2 linked regions of the Homo sapiens genome follow. The protein of the gene in region 1 purifies or fractionates together with the protein of each later gene. This does not show direct contact. Each region holds a gene or a part of one and is shown on either strand. Other genes may lie near its edges.

What was found. The genes of interacting proteins can lie anywhere in the genome.
Region 2: the proteins of NACA (region 1) and FKBP3 purify together in Homo sapiens (affinity purification with mass spectrometry, with the first as the bait; one large-scale study listed by BioGRID). This does not show direct contact.

The regions. Positions count from the first base shown.
Region 1 is NC_000012.12:56,714,501-56,719,582, reverse strand, and holds part of NACA (nascent polypeptide-associated complex subunit alpha), read left to right. Parts: coding exon 1-3,712; intron 3,713-4,895; coding exon 4,896-4,981; intron 4,982-5,082. UniProt on the Homo sapiens protein: Cardiac- and muscle-specific transcription factor. May act to regulate the expression of genes involved in the development of myotubes.
Region 2 is NC_000014.9:45,116,418-45,121,499, reverse strand, and holds part of FKBP3 (peptidyl-prolyl cis-trans isomerase FKBP3), read left to right. Parts: coding exon 1-15; intron 16-545; coding exon 546-613; intron 614-3,374; coding exon 3,375-3,472; intron 3,473-5,082. UniProt on the Homo sapiens protein: FK506- and rapamycin-binding proteins (FKBPs) constitute a family of receptors for the two immunosuppressants which inhibit T-cell proliferation by arresting two distinct cytoplasmic signal transmission pathways. PPIases accelerate the folding of proteins.

The sequences.
Region 1 (5,082 bases):
TTGGAAAGTGCTGACCCTGCCGGGGTGGCTCCCACAACTGCCAAAGGTACCTCAACTTATACAACTACAGCCAGCCCTTTTCTAGAAGGAACTGTCTCTTTAGCTCCTAAAAACCACCCAGTTAAGGAAGGTACTCTTACTACTTTACCCTTGGTTCCTACAGCTTCAGAAAATTGCCCTGTGGCTCCATCCCCCCAGAATACCTGTGCTCCTCTGGCTACCTTAGTGCTGGCCCCTGAAATCCCAAAGTCTGTGCCCTCACCCTCTCTTCCCCCAGCTGGGACTCCTCCAGGTACAAAAAAGGTTGATGGTATTTCTCATACTTCAGCATTGGCACCTGTTGCTTCCTCTCCCAAAGAGTGCCCAACTGAGGACTCTGGTGCTTCTGCTACTGCATCTTCCAAAGGAACTCTGACTTACCTAGCTGATTCCCCATCTCCTTTAGGGGTTAGTGTGTCTCCTCAGACTAAAAGACCTCCAACCAAGAAGGGTTCTGCTGGCCCTGATACTCCTATTGGAAATCTCTCATCCCCTGTTTCTCCAGTTGAAGCTTCATTTCTTCCAGAGAATAGTCTTTCTTTCCAAGGCTCTAAAGACTCACCAGCCACGACGCATTCTCCCACTCCTCCATCCCCCAAAGGGGCCCCTACTCCCTCAGCTGTGACTCCTCTGTCTCCCAAAGGAGTAACACTACCCCCCAAAGAGACCCCCACTCCTTCAGTGGTGAATCTGCCCTTCCCCAAAGAGGGTCCAGCTACTCCAGCACCCAAACAGGCTCCTGCTCTATCCATGACTTCTTCCTCCCCCAAAAAGGCCCGAGCAACTCCAGCCCCTAAAGGAATCCCAGCTTCCCCATCCCCCAAAGGGGCCCCCACACCCCCAGCTGCAACTCCTCCCTCCCCTAAAGGAGGCCCAGCTACCCCATCCCCGAAATGGGCCCCCACACCCCCAGCTGCAACTCCTCCCTCCCCAAAAGGAGGTCCAGCTACTCCATCCCCCAAAGGGGCCCCCACACCCCCAGCTGCAACTCCTCCCTCCCCCAAAGGAGGTCCAGCTACTCCATCCCCCAAAGGGGCCCCCACACCCCCAGCTGTGACTCCTCCCTCCCCCAAAGGAAGTCCAGCAGCTACCCCATTCCCCAAAGGGGCATCCACACCCCCAGCTGCAACTCCTCCCTCCCCCAAAGGAAGTCCAGCAGCTACCCCACTCCCCAAAGGGGCCCCCACAACCCCAGCTGCAACTCTTCCCTCCCCAAAAGGAGGTCCAGCTACCCCATCCCTCAAGGGGGCCCCCACTCCCCCAGCTGCGACTCCTCCCTCCCCAAAAGGAGGCCCAGCTACCCCATCCCCCAAAGGGGCCCCCATGCCCCCAGCTGCAACTCCTCCCTCCCCAAAAGGAGGTCTAGCTACCCCACCCCACAAAGGGGCACCCACAACCCCAGCTGCAACTCCTCCCTCCCCAAAAGGAGGTCTAGCTACCCCACCCCCAAAAGGGGCCCCCACAACCCCAGCTGCAACTCCTCCTTCCCCAAAAGGAGGTCTAGCTACCCCACCCCCAAAAGGGGCCCCCACAACCCCAGCTGCAACTCCTCCTTCCCCAAAAGGAGGTCTAGCTACCCCATCCCCCAAAGGGGCCCCCACAACCCCAGCTGCAACTCCTCCCTCCCCAAAAGGAGGTCTAGCTACCCCATCCCCCAAAGGGGCCCCCACAACCCCAGCTGCAACTCCTCCCTCCCCAAAAGGAGGTCTGGCTACCCCATCCCCCAAAGGGGCCCCCACAACCCCAGCTGCAACTCCTCCCTCCCCAAAAGGAGGCCCAGCTACCCCACCCCCCAAAGGGGCCCCCACTCCCCCAGCTGCAACTCCTCCCTCCCTAAAAGGAGGTCTAGCTACCCCACCCCACAAAGGGGCCCCCAATCCCGCAGTTGTAACTCCTCCCTCTCCAAAAGGAGGCCCAGCTACCTCACCCCCCAAAGGGGCCCCCACTCCTCCAGCTGCAACTCCTCCCTCCCCAAAAGGAAGCCCAGGTACCCCACCCCCCAAAGGGGCCCCCACTCCCCCAGCTGTAACTCCTCCCTCCCCTAAAGGGACCCCTACTCTCCCAGCTACAACTCCCTCCTCTAAAGGAGGCCCAACTACTCCATCCTCCAAAGAGGGCCCCACTCCCCCAGCTGCAACCCCCTCCCACAAAGGAGGTCCCGCTATGACTCCTCCCTCCCCCAAAAGAGGACCAGCTATCCCATCTCCCAAAGGGGACCCCACTTCCCCAGCAGTGATTCCTCTCTCCCCCAAAAAGGCTCCAGCAACTCCAGTCACCAGAGAAGGCGCAGCCACCCCATCCAAAGGAGATCTCACTCCCCCAGCAGTGACTCCTGTCTCCCTCAAAAAGGCCCCAGCAACTTCAGCCCCCAAAGGAGGCCCAGCTACCCCATCCTCCAAAGGGGATCCCACCCTCCCAGCAGTGACTCCTCCTTCCCCCAAGGAGCCCCCAGCCCCCAAACAAGTTGCCACTTCTTCCTCTCCCAAAAAGGCCCCAGCAACTCCAGCCCCCATGGGGGCCCCCACTCTGCCAGCTGTGATTCCTTCTTCCCCCAAAGAGGTCCCAGCTACCCCATCCTCCAGAAGGGACCCCATTGCCCCAACAGCGACTCTTCTCTCTAAAAAGACCCCAGCAACTCTAGCCCCCAAAGAGGCCCTCATTCCCCCAGCTATGACTGTTCCCTCCCCTAAAAAGACCCCAGCAATTCCAACCCCCAAAGAAGCCCCAGCTACCCCATCCTCCAAAGAGGCCTCCAGTCCCCCAGCAGTGACTCCTTCCACTTACAAAGGGGCCCCATCCCCCAAAGAGCTCCTCATTCCACCAGCTGTGACTTCTCCTTCCCCCAAAGAGGCACCTACTCCTCCAGCTGTGACTCCTCCATCCCCCGAAAAGGGCCCAGCAACTCCAGCCCCCAAAGGGACTCCCACTTCCCCACCTGTGACTCCTTCCTCCCTCAAAGACTCCCCTACTTCCCCAGCTTCTGTCACATGTAAAATGGGGGCCACTGTTCCTCAAGCATCTAAAGGGCTTCCAGCAAAGAAAGGCCCCACAGCTCTGAAAGAAGTACTTGTTGCCCCAGCTCCAGAAAGCACGCCAATCATCACAGCTCCCACTCGGAAAGGTCCACAGACCAAAAAGAGTTCTGCTACTTCACCTCCTATATGCCCAGATCCCTCAGCTAAGAATGGTTCTAAAGGACCCCTTTCCACAGTGGCTCCAGCCCCTCTACTCCCTGTTCAGAAAGACTCTTCAAAGACAGCAAAAGGCAAAGATGCTTCTCATTCCCCAAAGGGCCCCTTGGCTCCTCCTGAGTCTAAGGCGTCCACCCCTCTAACAGCAGCTGCCTTTGAGAAGGTCCTTCCTAAACCTGAATCAGCATCTGTCTCTGCAGCACCCTCCCCACCAGTCTCTCTGCCTCTTGCTCCCTCCCCAGTTCCCACTCTGCCTCCTAAACAGCAATTTCTGCCGTCCTCTCCTGGGCTGGTGTTGGAATCACCCTCTAAACCCCTTGCCCCTGCTGATGAGGATGAGCTGCTGCCTCTGATTCCCCCGGAACCAATCTCTGGGGGAGTGCCTTTCCAGTCGGTCCTCGTCAACATGCCCACCCCTAAATCTGCTGGAATCCCTGTCCCAACCCCCTCTGCCAAGCAACCTGTTACGAAGAACAACAAGGGTATTTGCCTTGGTTTGCCGTGTGCATGGTGTGTCTGTCGTCCACACCCCTCTTGGGCGCTACCCACCAATACTAACCCTGTGATGCGCCGCTTTCTCCAGTGAATCTGCTTGGGTTTGGATGTAGAACATAGAATGATAATTTTAAATGCAAAAGTTCTAGGAATATGAAACCAAATCTTGGTTTTCATTACTTCAGATAGATACATAGTACATTGTGTATCATTTTTGTGTAATGTGGCCCGGACTACCCTGAGCCTGCCATGCCATCTATTTTACCTAATTGATCTGACATTGAAAACCAAGACCTGCCAGACCTTTTCATTTGCTCTAATCCCTACCACATCACTAACTAACCTTGTCCCTGGGCCTGAGATTTGGTAAAATTATTGGAGAATTGAACTATTTGTATTTATTTTTCCATTATTAGACTTAGTAATGACCAGTTGCCCAGGGACTCCCTTTTCATAAAAATGTAGAAATCTGTTTTTCCTAGCCTGAAAATGGTGCAGGTGTATGCTTTTTTTCCTCAGTAGTCTTTACTGATGCTTGGCCTTTGAATTGAAAGAAATTTATGTGAATTATGTTTGGAAAAACTAGAGATATAGGTCATCATCATTGAGAATCTTCTAATTATATTGATTAGATCACATTGCTGGGGTGAATGGTTTGAAAATGAGGCTGAATATGTGTACGTGTCTGCTTTTGACTTCCTCCAACCCAGTTTAAAAGTTGAGGGGAAAACCACCCAACCTGTTGTGCCTCCACGGTGTGATTTTGGTTTTTTCACTTAAGTGTATCTGGGGGCACCTTCTGACAGAACTTTACAGGGATAATTGGACTATTGGGTAAAATTTTAGAGTCATATGGGTCATTATTTGCCTGTGCCAAGAAACAAAGACCTTGAGGGAAAGAAAGCAGTTACAGTATATTAAACTGCTCAGCTATTTCTAGTGATTAGTCCTCATTTCTGGGGTTAGGGCTGGGTCTTTACTAGATGTGTACCCGCTAGTTAGTGACTAAGTTAGGGGCTATCAAGCTGACTTCACACAAGCCAGTTGGTTTACATTTAACATTCTTAGGTCTAGCATGAGGCATTCACCTCTAGTCCAGGGCAGGCTGTGGTGAAGTACCTTCTCTTATAATTTCTACTATAAAGCAGTAAAAGTTGTTTCTCATCTTAGGGTCTGGAACAGAATCTGACAGTGATGAATCAGTACCAGAGCTTGAAGAACAGGATTCCACCCAGGCAACCACACAACAAGCCCAGGTGGGTATTCTCTTACTAACTGGTATTGGGTCAAAGAAGCAGGGTTGATCAGGGCAACTTTTGTATTTGGAACTGTGAACCTTCATAAAGGAAAACCCACA
Region 2 (5,082 bases), on another chromosome or scaffold:
CTAATATTCAAACAAGTAAGTCTAAATGGAATCTTATGTTTTTGGCTTAAAGAGATTCTAAATACTTGGGTGGCAGACAGATGAGTAGTTAGCAGTACCTTTTTCCTGACTGTCACCTACTTTCATCCAGACATACTTTCCCCCAAGATCTACTTGGAAGAGGTCTTCAGTTCACTGATTATTGGCTGGCTAAAGACCTCTTGTTCTTTGGAAAGCAAAAGATAAGGAATCTCAGTCTAAACCTGGTTAATGTCCCAAAGTAAGGCATTAGTATTTGAATAGAAAAGGCAGGATAGTATGCTGTTTTGTGATATAAGTATAGGTCCTACCCCTCTACCCTTTGTTAAGAATGTAATTATTTTTACAGCCAGAATTTTATTGATGGATGATCTTTGTAAATTTTTTCCTTCTTTTAAAATACATAGTATTGTAATTCTGAAATCAAACCACTATATTTTTCCACTGGAATTTAATAATTTCCAATGGAAATTTCTTAATAATAAATTAGAGTATATCATTAATGATAAGGAAAATCTGTTTTACAGGTGCAAAGAAGAAGAAAAATGCCAAGCCTTTAAGTTTTAAGGTCGGAGTAGGCAAAGTTATCAGAGGAGTAAGTAAAGAATGCCAATGAATCAGTAGATATTCTGGCATATGCTGCTTCTGGTATGGTGCTGTAAAGAATTAGGTTTGGGGATATAATACAAAGGAAACAGACTTTGGAGTCTGACAGATTGGGTATAATCATTGTTAGCTGATCTTGCACAAGTTATCTCGGTCTCAGTTTCGCTACATATAAAATGAGGACAGTACTGCCTACCTCAAGGTTTTTAGAAGATTAAATGAGCATAACTTGAAGTACCTAATACAGTAGGGGCTTAAATATTAGTCCCTTCCATGTGTACCCATTTTATTATTTTTCTTCATAAAGTAAGTCTTTGTCAGAATGTTTGGCCCTCTAAATTTAAGGTTCCTGTAAAATGTCTTATAACTGTTGTACCATTTACATATAATTTGCAAAGGTAAAATATCTGTCCCACTGAAGTATTCACAGAAGCAGAGTTTGTTTCTGCAGCCTTTTCACCTCATACAACATAGGCTGCAATACCAGAAAATCATTCAAACATGAGCATGCTTTAACCTACACTTATATGTGAGAGATAACAGAAAGAAACTTTGAGAAAAGAGGAAGTTAGGCTTGACCCGTACTGACCATTATACTGTACAAAAGAAGATAAAAGAGTAGGGCAGACTGTCACCTTCTATGAATCAGGTTTTCATGCTAAGGCCTGCCCATTGTGCCCATTGTTTGTTTTAAATTGTTATTCTCAGAACATCAGACATCAATAACTGAAATGCCTATTTAAATGCAGTTATAGGAACCTTCAATATATTACTCTCTGTACAATCAGTAGGTCCTAAGATATGGTTCAGACAATCATATACAGAATATAAAACATCTTAAAACTAAAGGTTTAGTTGAGCATAACTTATAATTGTTACCTGCCCCAGCCAGGCGTGGTGGCTCATGCCTGTAATTGCAGCAATTTGGGAGGCCGAGGTGGGTGGATCACAAGGTCGGTCAGGAGATCGAGACCATACTGGCTAACACTGTGAAACCCGTCTCTACTAAAAATACAAAAAATTATCTGGGCATGGTGGCACTTGCCTGTAGTCCCAGCTACTTGGGAGGCTGAGGCAGGAGAATTGCTTGAACCTGGGAGGTGGAGGTTGTAGTGAGCTGAGATCACGCCACTGCACTCCAGCCTGGGCAACAGAGCAAGACTCCATCTCAAAAAAAAAAAAAAAATTGTTACCTGCCCGTACCAAGTTGATAGCAAGTATATTATCAAATTGGGCCATTTTTCTATTTCTGTAACTTATTTGCATACTGGTAAATTTCTTCTAGTCTACCGTATTCTTTTTTTTTGAGACGGAGTTTTGCTCTTGTTGTCCAGGCTGGAGTACAATGGTGCAATCTCGGCTTACTGCAACCTCTGTCTCCTGAGTTCAAGCGATTCTCCTGCCTCAGCCTCCCGAATAGCTGGGATTACAGGCATGCGCCACCACACCTAATTTTGCATTCCTAGTAGAGATGGGGTTTCATCATGTTGGTCAGGCTGGTCTTGAGTGCTGACCTCAAGTGATCGCCCTCTTCATCTTCAGCCTCCCAAAGTGCTGGGATTACAGGCACGAGCCACCTTGCCCGGCTAGTCTACCATATTCTTATTTTCCAAATGTGACCACCCTAACTTTGTCCCTTGTGCTTTATATGATTGTTGCATTTCAATACAGCATATAATATTAGGAATATTATCCCTTTGGTGATGTGGATTTAACTGTTTGTGGAAACTAGCTTTAAGATCCAAATTTGGAAAATATGGAGAGGCCAACCCAGAAGACTTTTATTGTTTCTTTGAAAAGTTAGTTTTACCTTTTGCAAAAGATCTTAGTGCCGTAACATTTTAAAAATTGTATTTCCAAAATTAGCTGGGCATGCCTGTAATCCCAACTACTAGGGAGGCTGAGGCAGGAGAATCGGTTAAACCCGGGAGGCAGAGGCTGCAGTGAGCCAAGATCACGCTATTGCACTCCAGCCAGGGCAACAAGAGCGAAACTCCATCTCAAAAGAAAAAAAGAAAAAAATGTATTTTATGTGCCAACGTGACTCCACTATTACAATCTGGTAATCTTAAAACAATTTTACAGTGAGTACTTGCCAGTGTATTCCAATAAAAATAAACTCGTTTGTCCTGTGATGTAAAAGTGTTGCAGGTTTATGATGGTGCTAATAACTAACTGGTTTTCATAATGTATGGCATGTTACAGTTTACAAAAAGTTTTTTTTTTGTTTTTTGTTTGTTTGTTTGAGAAGGAGTCTCACTCTGTTGCCCAGACTGGAGTGCAGTGGCTCAATCCTGGCTCACTGCAACCTCCACCTTCTGGGTTCAAGTGATTCCCCTGCCTCAGCCTCCCGAGTAGCTGGGATTACAGGCACCCACCACCGCACCCAGCTAATTTTTTTATTTTTAGTAGAAGATGGGGTTTCACTATGTTAGCTAGGCTGGTCTCAAACTCCTGACCTTAAGTGATCTGCCCACCTCGGCCTCCCAAAGTGCTGGGATTATAGGTATGAGCCCCAAAAGGTTCTTTTCACATTAAAAAAGCCCTGCTTAAAATACCCTTTTTTTTCTATTGAAGAAATGGAAGACAAAGATTTAGGGACTCACTGAAGTACATTATCTTAGAATATAGTGAAATCTATAGTAATAGATTCTGTGTTTGTTTTAACATACAATCTTGTCTTGACTGTCCTGGTATTGCATGTGCTTTTTGCAAAATACCATTAGTTTTTATTTTGTTCTTGCCTTTAGTGGGATGAAGCTCTCTTGACTATGAGTAAAGGAGAAAAGGCTCGACTGGAGATTGAACCAGAATGGGCTTACGGAAAGAAAGGACAGCCTGATGCCAAGTATCCTTTTTTCCCCTTCATAATTAAAGTTGAAAAAAAAAAAACGTCTAGATCACCTTTGAGGATGTGAAAGATGCTGTCTAGGCAAACTTCTGGATCAAGAATCCTGTCCAGACTAGTCTTCCTGATCTTTAGATGCTTATGTGTCAGCACCTCCAATAGGCAATAGTATTTTCTATTGATATAAAGTTCAAACCTCAGCTAGAATTTTTGTTTCTCTTATTCAAATTCTTAACTTTCAAGACCTTAACTGTGAAGTTTAAGCTTAAACAGCAATTCTTAATGTTTTTAAGAGTTTAAGAAAAGTTACCATGCCCAGTACAAACTGTAGCAAACTACGATGCAAATATGGCTCATGGTAATTTTATGGTACAGTATAATTTCAGGCAATTAAATTCAAAGCTTAGAAATGGAATAGATGTGGGAGATTACCAGTTGTGAACTGAAGGAGACCACAGAATCAACAGTGTTAGTGTAAGCATTTATTATTACTACTAATGACAATACTCACTGATAAGTCCAGTTTGTGAACATTTAAAAAAAAAATAAGGAATGACTCCAGACCATTAAGACCAGACCAATCCAATAGGTAAGAGGGAAGGTAAGTTTATGGCTTTTGTTGGTTCCATTCCTCTTGGACCCATCAGATTAAGTTTGAAAAAACAAGTCCTTTGGGAGGCAGCTTTCTGTAGTCTTAGCAGATAAACATATTTGGGAATATAATAGCTCTCTTAGCTTTTCAAAATCAAATGAACAGGCTGGGCACCATGGCTAATGCCTGTAATCCCAGCACTTTGGGAGGCCAAGGAGGGCAGATCACCTGAGGTCAGGAGTTCAAAACCAGCCTGGCCAACATGGTGAAACCCTACCTCTACTAAAAATACACAAATTAGCCAGGCGTGGTGTTGCAGGCCTGTAATCCCAGCTACCCTGGAGGCTGTGGCAGGAGAATCACTTGAACCTGGGAAGCAGACGTTGCAGTGAGCTGTGATCATGCCACTGCACTCCAGCCTGGAGGAAAGAGTGAGGCTCTGTCTCGGTGGGGGGGGCGGGGAAATCAAATGGTCAGCTGCAGCTCCCTCTCCCATGTGAAGAAGCATCTCAAGACCAATCTGATGCACATATAAATTATATAACTCTTAAGTTAGCATATTTTGTTTTGGTTTTTTTTTGAGACAGGGTCTCGCTCTGTCACCCAGGCTGGAGTGCAGCAGCGTGATCTCAGCTTGCTGCAACCTCTGCCTCCCGGGCTCAAGCAATTCTCCTGCCTCACCCTCCCTGGTAGCTGGAACTACAGGTGCGCACCACTACGCCTGGCTAATTTTTGTATTTTTAGTAGAGACAGGGTTTCACTGTGTTGGCCAGGCTGGTCACAAACTCCTGACCTCAGGTGATCCACCTGCCTCAGCCTCCTAAAGTGGTGGGATTACAGGTGTGAGCTACCGTACCTGGCCTTGAACTTAGCATCTTAAAATGCACAGTAAATATTATGTACTACCTCATAAAAACTTTAATACTCTCTCTCTATATGTATATATATTTTTTTTGTTCCACCCCCCCCCAGCTAGAATGACATTACTTTTGTTTTGGAGTACTTAATAGTCTTCATT